2 separate regions of the Homo sapiens genome follow, and region 2 is linked to region 1. The links come from fine-mapping of genetic effects on gene expression. Tissue or cell type: testis. Region 1 holds a variant in brackets; the other region holds the start of a gene. All regions are shown on one strand. Distances are between the middles of the regions.

Region 1 (4,268 bases):
GTTTTACGTTGCACATACAGGGGACTTGAGAATCTCGCTGTTGTTCACCTTAAATGTCACAGTGTGGGCTCAAAAGTACAAAAATATAGACTGGAAAGATGACCCTCAGGTATGCCCTGAGTACTGTGGGGAAGTCTCCACCTGAATTCTTTGGCCCTCAGACTCTTTGATCTGGTAGTAGGAAATTGTGACATATACAATTATAAAAAAAATACCCCCAAGTGTCACGACAACGTTTGTGTTTCCAGCCCACTCGGTAGCTCAGATGCTTGGGGTTCTTAAACTCAGGAAATTCCCCAAATAGACAGCCGCTGTTGGGGTAAGGATTAGAGCTGGTACTTGATCAGCTGGCTTGCAGTTTAGATGGGGCTCAGACTCGGGATGCAGCTCTCCCTTGTCCCTGCAGGTTCAAGTGAACCTGCTGGACTTCCTATATCCAAAGAAAACTCTCATGTAACCAAATGCCCTTTGGCCCACGAAGGTGCTGCATATCAAGCATAATAATCATTAGACACCCTCCTGCCTGCCACAGCCCACACTTTCTCCCTCCTTTCATCAGAGCACAAGCCTGTCTGGCAGAGATACCTTATACCATGTTTTTGAATTTTCATTTGTGCAGAACTTATCTCTCTGACCAGTTTAAATACCTGTAAAGGCAACAAGAAATCGTCGAAAAGCTGGGCTTTAGACTCTTGCTGAGAAAAACTAACTTGAATTCTCTAAGCCATTCTTTAATAAAATCAGAAGTAACAAATACCTGACAGGTTGCATTAAAGATTACATTTATTTTAAAAGCCAGTAAAGTGCCAAACATAATACATGATTCATAGCAGCCCCAGGAAATGACAGAGCAAAGAGATCACCTACTAAATATCTTTGTTGTGTGTCTCATGTGGCCTTTTCCCAAGCTGGACATCCAGAGCGCTATCTAAAGCATTGCGCAAGGGAAAAGGATCACATTACGCTGCCACTATCAATATGCAGAAAAACAATAATGATACCAGCTGTGTTCCTGCATCCTGAGACTCTGCTCCTGAAACTGAAAATGTGTAAATGGGAAATCTCTGCATAGCTAGATGTGGAAACAAAGGAACTGGGCCTATAAGAGAAGCACAGCATCCTCTCCTTCAGAAGTCCACAGGGGCTGGAGTACTGATGATGGCACACAAGGGCACCATGAGTTTCTGTGCATACTAACATTGCAGACTGCCATACCTGGAAGGTGAACAGAGGAAAGGCAGGCATGACTTACCAAAGGGAACACATCCTTGCCCAGCAAACTAAGGAAGTCACCGATAACGTGGGCAAGGATTTAGCCAAAAAATGTTCATGAGTAAAGCTGTTTTAACATCAAAATATTAGCAACAAATTTAATTGTCCCAAACTGGGAATTGGTTAAATTATGGCACATCTGCAACGTAAGCACATTTACTCTATTTTAAATGACGATGCTAAAGAATACTTAACTTTTTTAAACCTTCTAGCTGTCTTTTGAAAGGGAAAATAATGCTATGAAATGCTTGTTGTTGTCATCTAGTATCTGTGCAAAAAGCAAAACAGCACACCAAAAAGATAAGAGGAAGATGGGACTATGTGAGATCTTTCTTACCTTTTCTCATCTGTGCTTTCTACATTAAAAAAAAAAAAAAAAAAAAAAAAAAAAATTAAAGCCAGCCGCAGTGGCTCACACCTGTAATCCCAGCACTTTAGAAGGCCGAGGCGGGCAGATCACTCAGTCAGGAGTTCAAGACCAGCCTGGCCAACATGGCAAAACCACGTCTCTACTAAAAATGCAAAAATTAGCTGGGCATGGTGGCACATGCCTGTAATCCCAGCTACTTGGGAGGTTGAGGCAGGAGAATCACTTGAACCCAGGAGGCAGAGGTTGTAGTGAGCCAAGATCGTGCCACGGCACCCCAGCCTGGGCAACAGAGCAAGACTCCATCTCAAAAAAAAAAAAAAATTAACCATATTAGACTTTTATAAAAAGGGGGAATTTGTTAGTTTGAAAGATAGATAAAGGAAGAGAGAGAGGCAGGAGGAAATATAAGGGAAGGAAAGGAGATCAGAAAGCAGGGATTCATAGACATCTTCCCCCCAACCTGCTTCCCCCTCTACAAACTCTGCCTCTTCAAAACCTCTGGGTGAAGAAAAACAACACTAGCCATGCTGCTAGTAAAACATTACAGACAAAAGACTAGAAACATAGATCCAATGCACCAACAGATAGTAAATATTTATAGAGCAGAGATAAGTGCCATTTAAGGGTAATTTGAGGCAAACAGTGGTTGTCTTTCTCATGCATTCTAAAAGCATGAAAGTATTAAAAAAACTACCCAAAAGTTTTCAACCAAGTAGAATGATCTAGGGCAATATGGGAACATCATCTTCTTTCAAAAGCATCTCAAGGGAAAATACAGTTTACAGCAAATAGTATTAGGGAAATGATTACGTAGAGCAGAACTTCTTGTGGTTCCCAGCCTGAGTCTGGTAAAAACCATGGCACAGTGTTGTGACCAGAGGGTTGGAGGATGCAGACTGCTTGGCTGCCATCCCTTCACTTCTGCTTGCCAAATGAGCCACCTACTTGGTCTCTGTCTGCCTCTGTCGCCTCAACCTGGGGACAGAAAAAATATTGGAGGCTGGGGACAGTGGCTCATGCCTGTAATCCCAGCACTTTGGGAGGCCAAGGAGGTT[G/A]GATCACTTGAGGTCAGAAGTTCAAGACTAGCCTGGCCAACATGGTGAAACCCCATCTCTACTAAAAATACAAAAATTAGCTGGGCATGGTGACAGATGCCTGTAATCCCAGCTACTCGGGAGTTTGAGGCAGGAGAATCACTTGAACCCAGGAGGCAGAGGTTGTAGTGAGCCAAGATCACATCACTGCACTCCAGCCTGGGCGACAGAGTAAGACTCCATCACAAAAAAAAAAAAGAAAAAAAGAAAAAGAAAAAAGAAAAAAATATTCGTACCTCACAGGGCTTTTATTAGGATTAAAAGAGTTGCTGCATGTAAAATGTTTAGAGCCATTCTGACGTGTAGGAGGTAGTCCATAAATAAACAGTTGATTATTCTGGTGGACAGTTATTATGTACTGGCTGTCTAGCATCCATTTCCCTTCCTAATACTTTTCCAGATTCAACCCCTAGGCCACAGACCAGTATGGGTCTATAGCCTGTTAGGAACCAGGTCGCACAGGAGGAAGTGAGCAGAGAGCAAATGAGCCAAGTTTTACCTGTATTTACAACCGCTCCCCATTGCTCCTATTACCGCCTGAGTACCACCTCCTGTCAGATCAGCAGCTGCATTAGATTCTCATAGAAGCGCGAACCCTATTGTGAACTGCACATGCAGGAGATCTAGGTTGCACCCTCCTTATGAGAATCTAATGCCTGATGATCTGTCATTGTCTTCCATCACCCCCAGATGGGACGGTCTAGTTGCAGGAAAACAAGCTCAGGGCTCCCACTGATTCTACATTATGGTGAGATGCATAATTATTTCACTATATATTACAATGTAATAATAATAGAAATAAAGTACACAATAAATGTAATGCACTTGAATCACCCAGAAACCATCCCCCTGCCCTGGTCCATGGGAAAATTGTCTTCCACAAAACTAGTCCCTTCTGCCAAAAAGGTTAAGGACCACTGGCTTAAACCATTCTTCCAAACAGTGATGATTGTTTCAGAAAAGGACCCAAGACCCAATTCAGGCCAATAAGACAGAAACAATCAGAGGTTTGTGAAGAGTCTCCAGAAGAAACCCTCTCTCTTCCCCTGGATAGTGTTGAATATGAAGATGGGGCCTCGCCAGGATTAAGCCTGTAATCTGAGCATCTCGTGGGCTGAGGCAGGAGGGTTGCCTGAGCCCAGGGGTTTGAGTCCTTCATGGGCAACATAGCAAGACCTTGTCTCTAAATAAATAATTTTTTTAAAAAAGAAGAATATATAGCCTGCAGCTACCATAGCCTTTTGGCTACCATAAGGGGGAGTCTGGAGCTGCCAGAGGGCTCCAGATAAGAGTTGAAAATAAAGCCAATACTAAAGAAAGCTCTTGTTGATATCACCGGAGTCCCTAATTCTGGCCTTACCTGAGGTCAAATCTCCTGCTAAACATCTCAGCTATATAAAACAATAATCTGCTATTTAAGCCAATTAAGTTTGGTCTTTTGTAATTTGCACATAAGAATCCCTAATTGATACACTTGTCTCAGACGAATAATCCTTTGCATTTCTTTCTCTGGACACTGACTACATTCCAGG
Region 2 (4,282 bases), 41 kb after region 1:
TTTAACAGTCTTCTCAGTCATCTAGAACAGCCAAAGAAAATATGGGTTAGTGACAGTGGAAGTCTTATTAGCTGATTAGTTTTTAAATTTGTCAATTTCATGCTGCCTTCTAAGAAGCCATAATCCTTAGTTTTCATAATTGCACCTAAATATACTTCAAATAATATGATTCAAATGTAATTCGAGTAGCATGACTCAAAAGTTAAAATCTGAAATTTAAGTACCAGCACCTGTCAGCATAAGTGATCAAGAATGCAGTTAATTCAGAGCTAATCAATGCAATTATTCAACCTAACAGAGGAGAAAATGGGCATGAATCACCCAGGATAGTAGCTAATCATCAAAGCCATTTTTGGCTTATAGGAGTGTGATTTTTTCCACAAGTGTTACCTTAAATTATTTGCTTGGTTAATATTAAAAACAAGTTTGTGTTCCTCAAATACACACACTGAGTAAGAGGCAGCAAGACACTGTCAAGGACTTTAGAATAAACACCATGGGCAATCTTCTAGTCTGGAGTTGACAGGTCTACTACAGTCTACTATAGAAGGGTGCTACAATGGAAGCCGGCATGTTCCTGCTTTATCTCACCTCACATATGCATGCCTAGAATTCCCTATGGGGTTCTCACACTTCGGTTCTGTGTCTCATTGTTTTTGCCATGTCTTTGCAATTCCTGTATTTAATATTTTTCTTTAAGTTAATTCACTTTTTAAAGAAGACATCTTTGTCCTAAGTTGCACTATATGTAATTCACTAGTTGTTTCCTAATGCAAATTAAACAAAACAGTTATTCAAATAAAGTGTTAATCCACATGCTAATGTCATCTTTCACAGCAAAGTCCTCTCATCTGGGATACACAGACCTGTAGCTTGTGACTCACACTCACACGAAGATCAACATGCTAGCAAATTGTCACCTAACAAGCTGCTGCTTGCCCTGGAAGGCTAAGAGAATGGCAGCACCTGTGCTATTAAAGCAGCAACAGAACCTCTTAAGGCACCCTCTCTCTCAGTATGTATCTGTAAGTGGATACCACCAACCAGTTTCTCTTAAGGCACCCTCTCTCTCAGTATGTATCTGTAAGTAGACACCACCAACCAGTTTCACGACACTAGTGAAGGACAGGTGAGGCAAAAATATGCATGAGGCAAAAATATGCATTAGCTGCATCTGAGATTTCCAATCTCAAGGTACCAAGAAGTCCACAAGGACAATCTGAGTCTCCTCCACTACTCTGCTTGCTAACCTCTATTTCCCTTCTACTCAGAGGGAAGAAAGCTACGTAGGATGATGCCAATAGTCATTTTAAGAGTCAAAAGTGCTTAAGTGTTTAAACAGTGTCTTTATAGCCAACACTTACCTTTTTGGCAGAAAAGCTTGGCTGTTTTTGTTTGAGGGGTCCCTTGGTCTTTACAGACTTTTCTGTAGCTCTGTTGACAGTTCCCAAAGCCTTTCTAGTAGCTTTAGGTAAGGCTGGTGGGGCATCGAACGTTTTGCCAAAACGTGGTGTTGAAACTTGAGATCTCCCATCTAAGGCTTTGATTGCTGAAGAAAAAGTCTTACCATAAGAATATTCCAGCAGCAAAATACCTGTACAACTTAAATACTGTGTATATAAACTTGACCTCTCACCCCCAAACCCACCCCCCACTTTTGGTAGTGGCATGGCTATGATAGGCCTAATAGCAGAGATTCAGTAACTTCCTTAAATCATCTCATTAAGATATTAAAAATGAAAAAGGACCAATAACAAACGACTCCAATTGCCCAAAAAGTACACTAAATGTCTCGTCCAGCTCCAGGCCACGTCCACAATACCAGTGTATCCGACTGCAGCCTTGTATACTTACAAGGTCCAGACCCCAGCTTCAGCCCATCCTTAGCAACCACACGGGTGCCTGGTTCTCCATTTTCCTTATCAACATAGATCAGAGTAGCCATTCTGGATTATTCTAAGAATGAGAAATACATATTAGATATTGGGGAAGGTGGGAGAAGCAAAGGTATAGCAACATACCAAACTTTCTATCCTAGGAGTGTCCACACAAAAAACAAGAGCTAAACAGCGGAACAGTCACGGGCGTGAGCCAACAAGTACTTAATCCAGCTCTCAAATCTTCCAGCCTGAGTCAGAGGCTCTAAGGTCCCGAGCAGCGCGCGGTTTGGGGCTGGCACTCATCAGACAGTTGCCGTTGGTCCAGTTAGCAGTCCGAGACCACGCTCAAACGGGCTCGGAGCCATCTAAGCCCCGGGCAGTCCCCCAACCCCAGCCCCAGCTTCAGCCCCAGCCGCAGCCGCAGCCCGCCTCCTTCCCCGCCGGAGCCGGCTCAACTAACCACCCGCGACCCTCCCATTCACTCACGCAGGTCTTAACAGCCGCATTCATCTGAGGCCGCGGTGAACGGACGCGGCGCACTCCTGGTTTAAACCACAACTCGCGGCCCAATTGGCTCTTCCGCCCAGGAGGCGGGGCCGTGGGCGTGGTCACCAAGTAGAACCAATGGAAAGGACCTAAGCAGCCAGGGCTCCGCCCCAAAAGCTCTTTCTTGCAAACTTTGTGGCACGTTTTCTGGGAAGAAAAAACTAGGATCGTGTAATATTAAAAAATAAATCGAGAGGCTTTTTTTTTTTGCTCTCCATATTATTAAGCTGCATGGACTGAGGTACTGACTCAATAACAATGGTTTATTGCTTTAAGATATTTTTATTTAGATGACCCTGTAAAAAGGATGGAAAATAAATAGAAATATTGAAGAAATAGGGGAAACAACCAATGTTGGGTCTAAAGAATACTAGCAGAGAAGAATTTAAAATTAAGAAGAAATGTAAGTACAGGTAGATCAAACAGCAGCGTTTGAGTCATTCTCTTATGCTTATGATTAAGAACGAACTGATCGTTCCCTAATCTTAGGACTATCCTCAATACTTCAGGCTAAGACACTGTTTCTATTATACCATCACGAATCTGTCTTAGGAACAAAATTATGATTCTAATGAATACATAATTTAGTCTTCCCTTAAAATTCTATCCTTTGATAGTGATTTATTTTAAACCTCTAACATCTCAATAATATATTAACCAAAGTTGCCTGGAAGGGCTTGGCCAGGGAGCAAGAGAATATCAGAGAGATAATAAAGATATAAAAAAGGAATTCCAATTTCCCAGATATGAAAAGAAATTTTGCTTGAAAAAGTTGACGACCTTTTCCTGTTTCTATAGTAAAATGGAATACATTGAACAACTACAAGATGAAGATATAAATTAAAACATAAGGCTGACCTGTGTCATTCAAACTCCGCTTCCCACAGTTCACCATATATGCATTTTAAGCTGCAGATCAGCTGAGAGAGAGGAGTTGATTCCATATTACTCTTTCACGAAAGGCTTGACACTATACCTGACATAGACATGGTTCTCAATATATGCCAGTTCATCATCTCTTTTTCCCTGGCATTTCAGGACCAATATTGATTGAATGATTCATTCATTCACAAATATTTATTGAATACCTATTAAATGCTGGACATTATACTAGGTTATAAGAAAAGAGCCTAACTTAAGGTGAAGAAAAGAGGAAAGACAGAAAAATATGCATACCTTTATTGTCCCTTCACTGTTCTTTTTCCTTTATCCCCATCCTTTATTTCCTCCTGTATCTCCTAAATTTTACATCATCATATTATATTATCAGCACTCAAAGTGTTAATTTTTAAGACTAAATCTGCACAACACCTATAGCTTCCAAGTGGGGATTCTCTATCTACAGAGGTTTTGAGGTGCAAGGTTTGTCTTAGGATGTCTTCTTTTTTTCACCAACAGAAAGCATTGTTTCTCCTAAGGTCATGCAGCAGCTGTAAACCATAACCACCCTCTCTGAATAACCACTGTTTTCTTACTAATGATGCCCTCAGACCAGCTTTGCTATTCCTATTACTGGAAATACTCAATTGCTAAACCACCCTCACTCATAACAGCACTTAGTCCCTAATCAGTTTCTCCCAATCCTTCTTTACAAACAGCAACCCATCCAGAACCAATCCCGGCTTTCCTAGACCTTCCTCAGAACCCTCCAGAGGGACCTCAAGTCTTAGAAAAGATTCAACTGTCTTGTCCTGCGCTTTCTGATTCCTCTTCGAGATGCGCTCTCCTGGTGGTTTTGGCTAATTAGGCCTTAACACTCCTAAGCAAATTTCAGGAATATTTTTAAGTGGAAAAAAACAAAGCCTGAGTGATTCATAGACTCTATTCACTTTCACGCTAGTCTCTGACACTGTTTC

Evidence for each region. PIP is the estimated chance that this variant, and not a neighbour inherited with it, causes the effect. A credible set is the group of variants that fine-mapping cannot tell apart.
Region 2: PTTG1 starts here. The variant in region 1 is the best candidate, but not a certain one, in a credible set for the expression of PTTG1 in testis (GTEx, PIP 0.82).

Annotation. Positions count from the first base shown.
Region 1 is chr5:160,460,574-160,464,841 of GRCh38, reverse strand. No RefSeq gene overlaps it. Among named protein-coding and RNA genes, the nearest start is that of MIR3142HG, 5.5 kb to the left of the region's middle. RefSeq lists an enhancer at 2,328-2,407. The variant G/A (reference allele first, on the strand shown) is at 2,698.
Region 2 is chr5:160,419,976-160,424,257 of GRCh38, reverse strand. PTTG1 (PTTG1 regulator of sister chromatid separation, securin) reads right to left here and starts at 2,403. Exons shown (of 6, transcript NM_004219.4): 1 at 2,367-2,403; 2 at 1,855-1,956; 3 at 1,365-1,549; 4 at 1-21. The coding sequence starts at 1,945. RefSeq lists an enhancer at 1,598-2,154 and silencers at 2,249-2,408, 2,509-2,568.